Regions from separate parts of the Homo sapiens genome. Here region 2 is linked to region 1. Evidence: fine-mapped expression QTL. Tissue or cell type: spinal cord. Region 1 holds a variant in brackets; the other region holds the start of a gene. All regions are shown on one strand. Distances are from middle to middle.

Region 1 (8,107 bases):
ACCGCGCCCAGCCAAAAAGTTCTTTTTTTTTTTTTTTTTTTTGAGACGGAGTCTCTGTCGCCCAGGCTGGAGTGCAGTGGTGCAATCTTGGCTCACTACAAGCTCTGCCTCCCGGGTTCACGCCTTCTCCTGCCTCAGCCTCCCGAGTAGCTGGGATACAGGCACCCGCCACCAAGCCCAGCTAATTTTTTTTTTTTTGTATTTTTTTTAGTAGAGACGGGGTTCCACTGTGTTAGCCAGGATGGTCTCGATCTCCTGACATCATGATCCACCCGCCTCGGCCTCCCAAAGTGCTGGGATTACAGGCGTGAGCCACCATGCCCGGCCAAAAAATTCTTAAAAATTAGCCAGGTGTGGTAGTCCCAGCTACTAGGAAGGCTGAGGTGGGAAGACCACTTGAGCCCAGGAGTTTGAGGCTGCAATGAGCTGTGATCCTGCCACTGCACTCCAGCCTGGACTACAACCCTATCTCTTAAAAAAAAAAAAAAAAGAAAGAAAGAAAAGGGAAGAGGATAGAGGGAACTGATGACAAAATGGAACTTCTACTTTTTACTCCTTATCTTTCTGTATTATTTGGGCTTACATGCTTACAATGAGCATACATTTTTGCCTGAGTGTATTTATTAACATGTAAAATATATGATATGATCCAATTTTTTTTTTTTTTTGAGACAGAGTTTCACTCTTGTTGCCCAGGCTGAAGTGCAATGGTGCGATCTCAGCTCGCTGCAACCTCTGCTTCCCAGGTTCAAGCGATTCTCCTGTCTCAGCCTCTCGAGTAGCTGGGATTAGATCCAATTTTTAAAACACAAATACACACTGCCACAGACAGGAATATGGATTGATATCCTTAAATGTTAGCATTAATTATTTCTGGTTTATGGATTTATGGGCGATCTAATTTTTTTGTTTTCCCTATCTGTATCTTAATTTTATAAAAAGAATACATTATTAGTGTAGTGAAATAATTTACATATAAATAAAAGGAAATAAGTTACTACTATGCAATTTATAAATAAAGGGACATACATTGTATCTACAAAAATGGGCAAAGAATAAATACACAGGAAACTCACAAAAGAGGAAATATAAAAGGCTAATCGTAAATTCTCTAAATTCTAAAGCATATAGTTTGGCACAAACTATATGGCACAAAGTAAGTCCTTAATAACGCAGTAATTTTAATTATTATCCCTTATTACTAAAACAATAAGTGTGTATGAAATCTGATTGTGGGACCATAAAAAGTGAGTACTTTTTATCCTACCATAAAAAGTGCAACAAATGTTGCACGATGTTACTGCGTAGAGTCCCAGGAAAATGAAGCCTCTCCAAGGGCACTCACCAAACCCTCAAGGAGACTGCCAGTCATGTTTCTAATCTGCCTGAGATGACTTCTCTGAGAAGGTCACATCCTTCTGGTAACTACATTGGGAGAATAGCAGAGCAGGACATGTCAGCAATCTCCACTCAGGGCTCATCTGAAGTTTGACTTCCCGTGAACTTGTGTTGCAAAACAGTGTTTTATTTGCCATAGGAGGAAAGAGAAGAAGACATGGAAACAAGAATACAAGGTCATTGGCAGAAGAGTACAGTCATGCATTGTTGAAATATGGGGATACATTTTGAGAAATGCAGGCAATTTTGTTGTGTGAACATCATAGCAGGTACTTATACAAACCTAAATGGTGTGGCCTACTACACACCTAGGCTGTAGCGTATAGCCTATTGCCCCTAGGCTACAAACCTGTACAGCATGCTACTGTACTGAATACTTTAGGCAATTGTAACACAATGGTAAGTACTCATATATCTAAACATAGGAATAGAAAAGGTACAATAGAAATATGGTATTATAATTTTATGGGATCACCATCATATATGCAGTCTGTTGTTGAACTAAACATCATTATGTGGTGCGTGACTGTATTCAGTTTTAAGAAAAGGGGCACTCACTCTACATTCTAAATCCCCATCTCTCCTCTCCTCCCCCTATCCTATCCATTCCTGCCTTCCTAAGAGTCTCATCACTGAAGAGAAACAGACCCCAGGCAGTTCAGTCTACACTCCAACCAATACAGCCTTGAAAAGGTAAACAGAATGTTGTTTTTATAATGTTTTATTATAAAAGTAATATATGATCTTTATAGAAAAATAAAGAAAATAAAAATCATCAATAATTTTATCACCCAGAAACAATCACTTTTAATGTGCTGGTAGAGGTTAGTCTATTTTAACATTTCTGAAATCATATAGATTTACATGATTGTTCTCACGTAACCTGTAACATAAGCATTTCCCAAGTTGCTATTATCTGTTAATAACAGTGGTTTGATTAATTGGATTGGCTGTGTGGATGTGGAACGGAAGAGCCTTGATGTCAAGAAGAGCTGAAGCACAGAAGGTGCAGTCGGTTATTTGGGACCATATTGTCTGTGGCTTTCAGGACAGGGAGCTTCAGGACTCAGGTAGATGACTCTGGAAGAAACCTTCTCTTTTGGAACTGCAGCATCTCCCTGTCCTCCCCAAGGGGAATTTAGGCCAGGAAATACCAGATCTTCCCTCTCTGATTTTCTTCTCAAATCCCAATGCAAGACAATGGAGACTAAATACGGTTCTGGTCATCAGGCTCTTCCAGAGCATCCGGGTGCATGAGAAGTGAATAGGTGATTGTGTTCTCAGCCTAGAGAAGGCAGAAACCAGCAGTAAGGATCCACAGAGAGGGCCTAGGAAAGAAGGCAACAGAAAAGGCAACAGGGGAGAAGGGAGGGGGAGATGGCTGGGATCACTCACCCCAACTTTGTCAGCCTCATCAGGATTAGTGGGATTGGCTGTGGGAAAAAGAAGAAATATCAGCCAGAGCACTGCTGGAGAAGAGGGCCTGCCTGTGCTGATGCTGAGGCTGCAAAACCAACGCCCAAACTAGAGCCAAAGCAAGCACTGCTGACCCTGTCTTGGGCCTCTAGGCCAAGCACTGGGTAAATATGACCTCATTGATCGATGCATAGGGTAGCCCAGCCACAGCCTTCCGCAAAGGCCAAGGTGAAAAAGTGGAGCAGTCACTTGAGCTGCATTCTTTTCAGGGAATTGCTGAGCTTTCCTAGAAGCAAACCAGGGAGGCTTGGGATCTGAGATATTGGGGAAGAGGTGGGGGAGGGGGGTGTTCAGCATCAGAGTGAAGTAAAGTCCAGATTTTTGCTGGCCACAGACTTCAGGGAGAGAAGGCTGAGGGCCATTTCCACATTGTCTAAATGTAGTGCATCTTTGTTGGAACTTTGAAAAATATGGTACTCCATGGCATTAAAAAGAAAGAGAGAGTGAGTGAGAAAGGGAGGAAGGGAGGGACGGAAGGAGAAAGGAAGGATGGACTTTGGTTAGTGTCTGAAACACACTGAATTCCCTCATATTTTGCCATGAACTGACTTAGCCAGTGTGAAAAGCAGCCCCA[T/GT]ATCTGCAAAGTGGCATTTCTCAGGAAGTCAGGAGACATCTGAGACAATGCATCTAGTCTCTTCTCTCACCCCCTGAACATAGAGAGCCTTTATTGCCATGCTGTAAATTCTGCAGTAAACCGCATTCTGAATTCCCATTCTATTACATTTCCCAAGAATCCCAGCAACCCAGCTTTGCCTTTTGGGAAAGGATTTTTAAAAAACCATTTATGCAGCCCCAATGCCTGGCTGCAAAAGTGCCTTGTGAAATGTGCTTATGCCAGTGCAGACAGAACCACACAACAAGATGGATAATCCAGTTGCTTGGACTTTGTTTTTTCCAGATCTGTTTTGGCCCTGGTGTGAACACAGGCCCCTATCACCACTGGGCCTGGCCAGCAGACATGCGACCTTGCTGCAAGCACAGCTGAACAAGTGATATTTTGCTCAAGCTCTTAAATCTGTTGGCTCTGCTCTGAATCATACTCCAGCCATCTGAGGTGGGGTCTTTGACAGCCTCTTTTTTCTGCCTGTTCTTACTGTCATGGAAGCCCCCAGAGAAAGCACTGGTTTCCTTTGTGCTCTGACTTTAACTACAGTCTGGAAGTTGCCTGGCATCCTCCTGGAAGTTCCTTTACACACTCCCACCTGGGCCAGGGCTTGGGTGGCCCCTGGTTCTCAGAATGTCAAATCTAGAAGACCTGAGAGGTCACCCTGGCCACCCACTCATTTCCTCAGTGAGGAGACTGAACCCCATCAGGGAGACTGACTTGCTCAGGGCTCCACTGTGTGATGAGGGCAGAACCAGGCCAAAATTCAGTCAACCTTGAGTGCATGGGCATCAGAACTGAGTTTTGCCCACAGAGTAGAGCCCACTAGTGCCCCTAGTCCCCCAGAATTTTCTCAAGCCCAAACCTCCTCCTAGTGTTCCACAGACAGCTGAGCCTGGCCACTCCACCCCATCCCTCCACAGAGGCAGATTCCTCAGCAAATCAAGGGGTTTCCAGGCCTCCTCCTCCTTTCCCCTTAGACTCCTGCCTCCCACGTCCTATTGGCCTCAGTCTTACAGCCCCTAACCCCATCCTTTGCCAGCTCTGCCAAAGCTCCACAGGAAGACCAAAGTATCTCTGATTTCTTGCTCTGGAAATATCACCAGATTCCTGGTACCAGAAATTCGGACACAGCCCTCTCTTCTGTATCTGGGACTGGTGTTTCTCTTCTCATCTCCAGAGAGGTCGTCTTTAGGCCCAGGAGTTAGACTAAGAGCTGACCAAGCGATTTGAGCCCCAGCCATCCTCCCACTGCTGCTCCCTCCCTGGCTCCCAGCTGAACTTGCACAAGCCCCTTCTCCCTGGCTCCAGTCCAGCCGGCAGCCCTGGTGAGCCATCACTGAATCCCTGAGACAACCTGTACTCACCTGGTTTCTCAGGGAGGGTCTCTCCCATTTCCCTGCACTCAGGGTATCCTGGGAGAGCTGGGAGGGGCACACAGGAGGTTAGTAGGATTAGGCGGTGGGGCCTGAGTCCTCAGGACCAAGGACCAGGGCCAGGGTTGGATGGGACCAGCTCAGGCCTTCACTCTGGCAGATGTTTCCTGTCCTCCCACCCCCAGCTCCCCTGCTCAGAGGCTGCTCCCGCCTGGAAAAGGGCTGGTCCAGAGGCAGAATTCAGCTCACCCATGGGGATGCCCAGGAGTGTCAGAAAGTCCACGCCATGGCATCTGTCTGAGGCTTGCTCTGCCTTTTAAAAACACCCCTGTGTCTCAGTCTCTCTCTCTCTGTTTCTCTGTATTTACTTATCATCAGTAACTGAGGTGTTGGCTATGAACCAATTGAAAAGTGCTTTGTGAGGTGTTAGCAGGATTCTTTCTTTCTTGGTGGCTTGCAGTACCCTCTCTACTCCCCCTTCGACACCCATATGAGCCCCACCCGGCTTCAATCCCTGCCTTGGCCCAGTGCCTGGAGGGTCCTCCTTCCCTAGCTAAGCGCTGCCCTCACACACCACCTCCTCCAGAATGGCAACAGCCCTGTTTGTGTGCTGTTACTGCCTACCAGGCACTGTGTAAGAGCATCAGCCTCTTTCATCCCCATGGCAACCCTCTGAGGTAAGTCCTATTAGTGTCCCCATTTTCCACTTGAGACAGCTGAGGCACAGAGAGGTGGAGTGACTCACTTGGGTCATATAGTTGGTATGCTGTAGAACTAGATTTGAACTCAGGCAGTCTGGCCCCACTATGTGCACTCCATCACTACACTACACTGCTCTCCCCAAGACCTTCTCCAACTGCCTCAGCCCTTGTTGGGCTATGGAGCCTCCTCTGTACTTCTATCCTAGGCTTTTCATGTCCCTATCATTGCTCTTATCCCATCTTATTATAATGACCCTGTCTTCCTCACAATGCTGAGAACTCCCCAAGGGCAGGGACTGGACTTCTCTTGGCATCACCCACCATGTCTCACGCATTGGCTGACACATAAGCTAGTTTGTTCAAGTCTTGTCAAATGAATGATCTAATAAACGAATGAATGACTATAATACAATACGGGCCTAGATCTGAATGTGTATCTAGCCCAAAGAGAGGGATTCTGGCAATGTCTGGGGTTAGGGCCTGGGCCAAGTGGAAACTGATAACCAAAGGGACCGGGAGGAGCTACAAACCTGAAATCCGCTTTTTCCTGCAGTAGATCAAGGCCACTACAGCAGCAACAATGGCCGCTACAGCAATCCCAGTGACCACAGCCACAATGATCCCCATCGGTGAAGAGCTGGGAGCTAGGGAAGACAGACATCAGGACAGGCAGTACTCTCCTTGTCCCACCTCCCCCCCATCCAATGCTATGTCCTAGTGCTTGTCACCCGAAGCTCTTCTGTGTCTGAGTCACTCACTTCTGCAGCACTCACTACATCCCCAGCCTCATCTGCACAGGGTTTCTGTGGCTGGACTTATGCCTCCTGCTTACCGAGGTTTCTCCACCAAACTAATAAAGGTACATTTGTGAGCAGGCAGGAACAGAGGGAAGGGCTCCCCTTAGCCCTCAGGGGCAGTGGGAAGGGTGGGCCCAAAGCCTCGCATAGCTGGAGGCATCATTACTCTATGGAGCACAGCCTTGAACGGTCCATGACGTGCCAGGCTTTCTGGAGTGAATGGCTGTAACATGAGCCATGAGAAGAATAAAGGCAAACCTCAGTTCTTAGGAATGCCCAGGAGCTTAGGGAACCTCTGCACCAACGAGGGAGCTCTGCTTCGCTGCCGTCCTTAGTCTGGGGCCTGCATTTCAAAGTGGAACAACAGCCTGGTCACCTATCACCTGAGGGCTCCAAGCTCTGGCCCCTACTCCTGCTCATTGGTCAATACTTAGCCAGGCCTCCACACCACTCCTCTTTGCTCCAGTGCCCAATTTTGCGCTGTGGCCTTTCTCAGACCTCCATGTAGGCCCATGTGACCTCAGCCCTTGTCCATCCCCTCTTCTCCCCTCCTTACATCTTGGCAGACTCCGCATACCTTGGACAGTGATGGTCACAGGCTTGGATGAGTACAGCGTGTAGCCTATGTTTCCTGTGCAGTGGTAATCACCACTGTGACTGTGGTTTGCTTGTGGGATGGAGAAGTTGGGATCCGAACGGGAAAATTTCTTGGATTTTCCATTCTGGAAGAATGTGACCTTGACCAGAGGCTTGTCCTTCCAGCTGTGGCACCTCAGCACGATGGTTTCTCCCTCCTGGAACTCCAGGTGAGGGGTCTGGAGCACCAGCCACTCTGAAAGACACAAAAAACCGCAGAGGACCCGGGAGGTCTTGGCTCAGCTCTGAGACCCAGATCTTCCTTACTGGTGGGACACGATGTGCAGAGGGAACAGCTTAGGTCTGAAATCAGACAGTCCTGGACTCTAATGCTGGCTCTGTCATTTATGAACTCTTGGGCAAATAATTTAAGTCTTCTGAGCCTCAGTTTCCTCATTCGTGAAAATGAGCATGATAGTGTCATGTATCTACAATAGCCCCTAGCACATAATAGGTGTTCAGGATACACTCATCTCCTCCTTCTCCCAGGAAGGCAGCTGCAGCCTTTTCCTGCCCGACAGGCCTCTGCAGGAAGAACACAAGAGACCCTAAGATGCCATCTCTTCCATGTCGAGGAGGGAAGGAAGAATCCAGTGTGACCGAGGAGTCCGCATATGATAAGGACATATGCCTTTGTGGACAGTAGAAAAGTCATGAATGTGCAACAAATGTTACCTGATGAATGCTACCTGATAAATTTACTTCGGGAATGTTAATAAATGTGGAGCTTCTTTCCAGCAGGGTCTAAAGGCAGCAGTGTCACCAGTGGGTCATTCGTTTGCTGTGTACTTTTGAGGAAAATTTGCTCTTCAGGTGAAGGGAGGGGACTAAGTGAAAAGCCACAAGGACAATGTTCATCACAATCTCATTGTAACTTTGCTTTACAGAGAGCCACCTTTCAATGGGAGCTTTGTAAGATCATCAACCTCTCCAGCAAAATATTTATTAAGCTCTGCCCAGTTTCAGATGCTGGAAATACAAAGATGGGTAAGACACGACTTTCATCTCAGGTTTCCCACAGGCTGGTGGAAGAGAAAGACAGAGAAGAGCACCTAGCACAGTGAGAACGTGGAGAAGGGGCATGGAGGGCGGGGCGGGGGCAGGGAAACACTGATTCTC
Region 2 (8,107 bases), 46 kb before region 1:
CCTTGTCGTACCAGCCGCGGCAGCGCAGGACTAGCGGCTCACCCTCGAACACTGGCGCATAGGGCACTTGCAGAATCAGCCAATCTGCGACAGACACCACAGACACGCTTGACTCCACAGAAAGTCCAGCCCTGGAGATCTCCCACTCTCACAGCCTTCCAGCTTTCTCCTCTTAACTCCTCTCCCTCCCTTCCCCGCCATCTCCCACCGCTTTCTTTTCTTTTCTTTTTCTTTCTTTTTTTCTTGTTCTTTTTCTTTTTTTGAGACATGGTCTTGCTCTTGTCGCCCAAGCTGCAGTGCAGTGGCACAAACTCGGTTCACTGCAACCTCCACCTCTTGGGTTCAAGCGATTCTTCTGCCTCAGCCTCCCGAGTAGCTGGGATTACCGGTGGGCGCCATCACACCCAGCTAATTTTTGCATTTTTTAGTAGAGACAGGGTTTCACCATCTTGGCCAGGCTGGTCTTGAACTCCTGACCTCAGGTGATACGCCCACCTCGGCCTCCCAAAGTGGTGGGATTACAGGCGTGAGCCACCGGGCCTGGCCTCCCACTGCTTTCTTGAGCGGACAGGCCTTCCCTGGTGGTTGGCACCCAGCAGCCTCATAGTGCAAGATATATTTGTAGGTGAGTGGGAAGGAAGGGGGATGGCTGGTCTTTCACTTAGCCAGGGAGCAAAGATGCCAGAGACTTGGCTCCACCCTCAAAGGGTTTTGACCATGAGAATCAACTATAACCTCCTTAGGATGGTGTCAGAGTCCTCCTGACTGGGTCCTGCTTACCTCTCCCTCACCATGGCAGTATTCATTCCTGCCCCATTTCCTCTCTACTTTCCTCATCTTCCACTCCTAACAGGATAAGTTCCAGCCATACTGAACTGTTGAGAGAACTGGCCCTGCTCTGAGCCCGAGGCTTTTGTACCTGCTATTTCCTCAGCCAAGAAGACTCTCTTTCACCTGTTTAAGTTCACCTGCTTGTCCTGCATGTCTAGGCTTAGACCTTATCTCCTCCAGAAAACATCCCTGACACCCCAGGAGAGCCTTAGGTATCTCCTACAGCACCTCATAATTACCCTGTGATCATTATAGCACGCTTACATAGCCCTAGCACAGAGCAGATGCCATTTTAGGTGTTGTACATTGAGAAAGAATCCTGCAAGTAATAGCCACAATCCACATGCACTCCCAATCTGTAAGCAGTAATTACTCCTATAGTACTCAGTATAATTATTGCTATCACCAATGATTTCCGAACAAGAAACCACAGAGTATGAATATGAAGTGTGTGTAAGTGCTAATCTGAACATTGAGTGATGTGCTTTAAATTCTGAATACAAATTGTGGCTAGGAGTGCACGATCTCAGCTCACTGCAACTTCCGCCTCCCAGGTTCAAACAATTCTCATGCCTCAGCCTCCTGAGTAGCTGGGACTACAGGCACCCGCTATCATGCCCAGCTATTTTTTTTTTTTTTTTTTTTTTTAGTAGAGAGTGTTTCACCATGTTGGCCAGGCTGGTCTTGAACTCCTGACCTCAGGTGATCTGCCCGCCTTGGCCTCCCAAAGTGCTGGGATCACAGGCTTGAGCCACCGTGCCCAGCAATCCTGTACTTTATTGAACAAATTATTGTTATTTTTCTTATCCTGTTTTAAAACCCTTCAAGCATCTCGAGAATCAGTTTCTCAGCTGACTCCTGTGTACACATATACACGTCTGCAATAAAACTTTGAGTAAGTGCTCAGTTCAATTGCTGCTTTTTTTCTTTAGCAAATCATAATTCACTTTTAATCCTCAGAGCAGCCGAAGAGATACATACTATTATTGTCCCTTCTTTACAGATGTGGACACTGAGGCACAGAGAAGCATCACACTGTTCAACTGAGAGTAGATCCTTGATCTATGCTCAGACTGCCAGGGAAACTCACCTTTCCTGTTTGGTGAATTTCCTTTACTGCTCCCTCCCCAACCCCCTAAAGTTCTCTGTCCAGCACTCCAGGTCCTTGGAGCCTTTGCTCTTCTGAGCTGGTCTCAGAAACAAACAGAAATGTTCACACTGTGCCTCACACTATGGCAGGAGGGTAAGGGGACCTTGGGGGCTAGGCATGCCTTACTGCATCTCTCGCATAGTGCCGTGCAGGTCCCTACCTGCTCCAGAGACTTAAGATAGGCCCCAGTGTGGCCCTTGTTTCCTGCACCTTGGGATTGGCCCAGTGTTCCCTCCCACCAGAGGACTAGTATTGCCAGAGGAGACACGTGCTCCCCCTCCCCTCGTGCTCAGTCCACTCACCATTGGATACAGAGAGGTGGATGGGGTCACTGACGGGTGCTCCCCGTGTCTGGCATCGATACACCCCTGGTGTCTGCACCTCAATGCTCTTCTTGTGAGAGGGCAGAAGTAGGTGGCCCAAATACCAGAGAGTGCTGATGGGCTGGAGCTCCAGGAGCAGTGGGTGGTATCCATCACACTTCAAAGTTACCCGCTCCCCTTTGAAGATGGTGGTCCAAGGTGGATGTAGAGACAATATGGGCTTCTCCAGAGTAGCTGGGGTGGGGAGTGGGGTGAGAGGGGGCAGCATGCAAAGAGAATCAAGGTGAGGTGCCCAAAGAAACGACCTGAGTTTGGGAAATCTTAGGAAACCCCAGCTCGCAGGCCCCAGCCCATGTACTAACCCATCCCTGCAGGAGAGGAGATCACATTCATTGGGTTACAGACTACCAGTCCATCAGCCAGCACCCATTTCTAAATGCCTTCAAGCAAATTTAGTCCCAGGGGTTGACGAGAGTGGGAAGAGACACTATCCCAGCGCAGCCAAGAAGTGAGGAGTCTACTTGAAAAGGTCACTTAGGGGGTTGGAGTGGAAGCTGTAGAAAATTGGGATGAGAAATTTATAAGACTCACCAGCTTGCCCACTGCTTGGAACTGCAGAACAGGAAAGAAGGAAGAGGAAGGAGAAGGAGAATATTGGCGATGAGAGGAGAGAGACTCTTGACGACAAGAAAGGCTGAATGGTCCCAAAACCTGTTTTTCTTCTTCTGCCCCTGGTTTCCCAAGCTCTGAGAAAGCCCCTTCTTCTTCACCCCTCCAAAAAAAGATAATGAACCACTTGGAAACTGAGGATTGGATACCCACCCTCCTCTCCCCATACCTTGGTCCACCCTATTCTCCACCACCCAAAGCTCTTCTGCTGCCTCACTGTGGACTCACCCAGGAGCAGAAGGGCTGTCAGTGGCCACATGATGGATCTGACTGCAGCAGCTGCAGAAGGATGGAGATGCACTGGCATGAGATGGGGAACAGAGAGAAAGAATGTGGCCAGTGGATGCCACTGAGTACTAGGAGACATTGCTGCTTCTCCCACCCACTCCTAGTTCCTGAAGATAGCAGACCAGAACCAGTGGGAGACAGGCTGAATATCAGGTATCCCAAGTGCCAGGCACTGTCTCATCTACCGCATCTACAGCCACCTCACAGCTCAGGCCAGCCCTGACTACTGAAAGGAAGGCCTGCAGAACTTGTGCCCTCCACAGCACAAGAGAGCCCCATAGAACCCCAGGCTCCAGCAGATGACCCCGCCATCTTCAGGCTCCCATTGACATCCCACTCCCATCCCATCCCTTCTCCACCTTCCAGCCAGCCCTGCAAGGCTCAGCTGAGGAAGACACGGCCTCATGTCCTTAAGGACCTTTTTCCTGCTCACTCCTGATGACAGACATTGGCATGAGACCTAGAGAGGTCAGTGTTCGGTTGCCTGCCCCCAGAGCTCACATCCTGCCACAATGAGTAGACGAAAAGGCATGACTCACCAACCACCCTTCACATCCCTATCATCTAGTTCCCCAGTCAAGGATAGAAATGCAATGTGTTTCTTCTTCCTCCCTTCCTGAAATCTTGAGTTCTCATAAATTCTTAAATTCTTAAGAAGTTAGAAAACTCTTCTTTCCTACCCATCCCAATGAGCTCATCCTGTGGCACTTCCAATCACTTGTTCTTTTCTTCCTTCCTCCCACCCTTCCCTGCAACCCCTCCCCAGCCACGCCCCAGTTCCAGAACTCCTGACCTGCAGCAGAGAAGTCACTGCATCGGCCCCTCAGAAGCCTCTCAGATCTGACCTCGGGGCTCTACTTCTTGTGCTTTCTGAGCCATGTGACCGTACCTGAGCAATGAGGAGAACCTGAATTTTCATGTAAATACTTAATGAATTTTCCAGCCTGATAGTGTGTCTCCTTGGACTCTATCCTGTCCTTACCTGTGGTTGTTTAGAACCGGGGCACCTTGATCCCTTGGAAATCTGATGGGAAGGAGATCAATTATCAGGTACTGTCAACTCCCAGGAAGATAGTATCTTCCCCTCTTGCTGATGCCTGAAGTTCCACTCTGAGAGTCCCCTCATATTTTGCTTAATGGACTAGCCCCTTTTAAAAATGCAAATGCCTCTTAGGAAAATGTGACTGGTCATTTAAATTATGCTGGTCACTTCAGATCATGTTTTGAGTGCAGGTTTTGATAAAAGAGATAGAGTCCTGTAGATTTCAAACAAAGTAGGGACATATTTGACAATGTGCCCAAGAGTAGGGGAGGCAGAGAAGAACTAATTACTGGGAACAGGGATGATCACCTGCCTGCTTTAGGAGTGCCTGGGCTGACCAGCACTCTTGTGCTTCCCCTCCATCCTAATAATTCCTCGTCTCAGGGCCAGTGTGTGGCTTCCCACATGATCCACAGCCTGCCACAGAGGTCTGACTTCTGCACCAAGCCACCACCTCAATGGTAAGAATGCAATGCAGTTGTCAGCTGTCCTCTTAGGCAACACAAGCTGGCTCTATTTTGGCTTCTCATCCCCCAGAGCACAGATCTCAGCCCCTTTACTCGATTCAGAAGAAACCTTAGTACACCAAAACTTTGTGAACTGTATAGTCGTCCCTAGAAACCTCTGGAACCATCCATACTGTTCATATTATACAGTGCTCAGAATTTGACTTGAAAAATTTCCCACGAAATATTTATTTATTCTAGGCTCTCCTCTAAGTTTTTCCCAAAGTGAGTCTTTTTACTCCATCTAGGACTTTTCCCCAGAATTTCTAATTCTTCACTCCTTTACAATGCAGAAAAATTTAGAAATTATCATTTGTAACTTGAGCAATTATTTGAGGCCTATCACAACATAACATCTGGACAATATATGTCACCATTTGATAAGCATTCTGGTGATAAAGTGTTCTCAGTGATAATTACAGTAATGAACTAATGCTGTTGTTGCTGATGACAGCTCACTTTAGTGTCTCGGCATGTGGCAGGCACTATGCTAAGTGCTTCACAGATATTACTGCACTTAATTCTTGTAAGGCCCTTTGAGGAAGAATTATTAATATCCCAATTTTGCATATGAGGAAACTGAGATGATGAAACTGGGATTTGAATAGAAGTCTGTCTCCAAAATCTGTTCTCTTATCTCTCTGATTGTCAGGGATTCAAGATGCTGCTCATGGCCGGCTGTCATTATTGGTCTTTGCAAGTTCCCCCTCTTATTGTCTTACCTTGTTGACTTTCACCCACATTATTGTCCTCCTCCCCTCCACATAAGCACCCACTGTAAAATGTTTACTGTGTGTTCCCATATACATGCTATTTTTTTTTGTGCTTTAAGTTCTAGGGTACATGTGCACAACGTGCAGGTTTGTTACATATGTATACATGTGCCATGTTGGTGTGCTGCACCCATTAACTCGTCATTTACATTAGGTATAACATGCAGTTTTTAGCTTTGAGAAATATTTAGTGTTGTTAATTTACATAAGTGGCATTGTGTTCTAGATATTATATTCACTTCTACTTTTAAAAATTAATCCCAGATGTTTCAAATTTGTTCAGATTGCTCTACATGCATCATGTTTATTGCTTTTGACTGCCCTAATATTCTTTTTTTTTGAGACGCAGTTTTGCTCTTATTACCCAGTCTGGCATGCAATGGCATGATATCAGCTCACTGCAACCTCCACCTCCTGGGTTCAAGCAGTTCTCCTGCCTCAGCCTCCTGAGTAGCTGGGATTACAGGCGTGCATCACCACGCCTGGCTAATTTTGTGTTTTTAGCAGAGATGGGGTTTCACCATGTTGGCCAGGCTGGTCTTGGACTCCTGACCTCAGGTGATCCACCCACCTCAGCCTCCCAAAGTGCTGGGATTACAGGCATGAGCCACTGCGCCCAGCCATGACTGCCCTAATATTCTATGCTTCTGCTACACTGCACTTGTCCATTCCCCTAACATCCTAGTTGCTGCCCACCCTCAGCTACCACAGACAATTCCACAATGGACTTCTTGGTACATATTGTGAGGGCTGGATGAATTAACATATGTAAAGGGCTTAGAACAGGGGTTGGCACATAGGAAGTTTCATGTAAGTTAGTACTGGTAAGGACATGATGCTTCCCTACAGAGCCCTGAAGCGCCTTTATGGGATACACACCTGAGAGCAAGACTGCAGAATTATGTTCATGAGTTACATGCACACTCATTCCAAAACTCAAATCTAATTCATCAGCAAGTCCTGATGACTCTACCTGCTACATTGATCTTTTTGTACAGTAATTTATTCACTGAGTCGCTAGAGAGATACTTTTAAAATGTTAACCATATTGTGTTACTTTCTCTCAAAATTCCCCATAGGTACCCTCAGAATAAGTTCCAAACACCTTCCCATGGTCTACAGGGCCCTACAAATCGGGCCTTTCTCTGACCCTTGGCCTCATTTCCTACAACTCTCCCCCTCACTCACTCTGATCTAGCCACATTGTGTTTAGAACAGTTGCTGGAACATTCCATGCTTAGTCTTGCTCCAGGGCCTCACTTGCTGTTCTTTCTGCCTGAAAGATTCTTATTCTCCTCCCAGATTTTTGTAAGTTTCACTTCCTCACTTCACTCAAATATTACTTCCTCAGAGAGATGGTCGCTAACCGTGCTATCTAAAATAGTATCTCCTCACTGTCATTTGCTGGCTCCATATTTTGCTTTATTTCTCTTCAATGTACTTGTCACCACCCGGAATTGTATTTGTTTGTTTGTGGTAGGTTCCCCCATTAGAATGTAAGCTCCATTGAGGCAGGAATTTTTTCTTTTTTGCTGATGTATCACCTACAGCAGTGACAGCACATAGCACGTGCTGTGTAAGTATTTGTGGCATAAACAAAGGAAGAGATTGAATACCGTGATATTACTCTCAAAAGTGGCTGCAGAAGCTTATACACCCACCAGCAATTCACGTGGCTCCCATTCCCTCTTGTCATCAATATTCAGTGTTTCTTACCTTTGTAATTTTATCAAACAAATTTTTCTTTTCCTAAATAAGAACATTTAAAATTATTCTTATTTTATTTTCTGTAACCCAGGATAGGGCTGATAATAATATATTTTTTAAAATTGCTATTGCTATTCTTTTTTTTTTTTTTTTAGACGGAGTTTCACTCTTCTTGCCCAGGCTGGAGTGCAATGGTGCAATCTCAGCTCACCACAACCTCTGCCTCCTGGATTCAAGCAATTCTCCTGCCTCAGCCTCCCGAGTAGCTGGGATTACAGGCATGCGCCACCATGCCTAGCTAGTTTTGTATTTTTAGTAGAAACAGGGTTTCTCCATGTTGGTCAGGCTAGTCTCGAACTCCAGACCTCAGGTGATCCGCCCGCCTCAGCCTCCCAAAGTGTTGGGATTACAGGCGTGAGCCACCGTGCCCGGCATAAAATTATATTCTTTAATGTAAACTTTTCAGCAAAAGGAAGGCATTTCGATACCAAAGGAGTGCAAAGGACAATTTCAGAATAGAGAGCAGAGTATTTCTTTACATTGAATGTCTTTAGCTTTATGAGAAATTCACACATAGTTAATGAAAACTAACAGTGCCTGTCTGAAGGAACTCTGGCAGGAAGGCTGTGCTGTAACTCTCCGTATTTCTCCACATCTCCTCTTGTCCAGTGGGAAGGGAGAAGGTTGATACCAAGAGGGAAGAAAACTTTTAAGAAGACAGGACTAGGGTGAGGCCTATCCCAACACACCCTCCTTAAACTTCCTCCTATGATTCTAGCAGGTCATTTTATCCCTTCCCTAGTCTCTTCTAAGTTGTA

What was found. PIP is the estimated chance that this variant, and not a neighbour inherited with it, causes the effect.
Region 2: FCRLB starts here. The variant in region 1 is fine-mapped to the expression of FCRLB in spinal cord (GTEx, PIP above 0.99).

What each region holds. Positions count from the first base shown.
Region 1 is chr1:161,672,052-161,680,158 of GRCh38, reverse strand. FCGR2B (Fc gamma receptor IIb) reads right to left here. Exons shown (of 8, transcript NM_001394477.1): 4 at 6,930-7,184; 5 at 6,086-6,199; 6 at 4,846-4,902; 7 at 2,794-2,831; 8 at 1,505-2,683. The coding sequence ends at 2,606. Among named protein-coding and RNA genes, the nearest start is that of FCGR2B, 13 kb to the right of the region's middle. The variant T/GT (reference allele first, on the strand shown) is at 3,449.
Region 2 is chr1:161,717,798-161,725,904 of GRCh38, reverse strand. FCRLB (Fc receptor like B) reads right to left here and starts at 4,361. Exons shown (of 8, transcript NM_001002901.4): 1 at 4,244-4,361; 2 at 4,055-4,150; 3 at 3,202-3,252; 4 at 2,896-2,916; 5 at 2,284-2,538; 6 at 1-84. The coding sequence starts at 3,232. RefSeq lists enhancers at 3,300-3,399, 3,480-3,579 and a silencer at 6,959-7,008.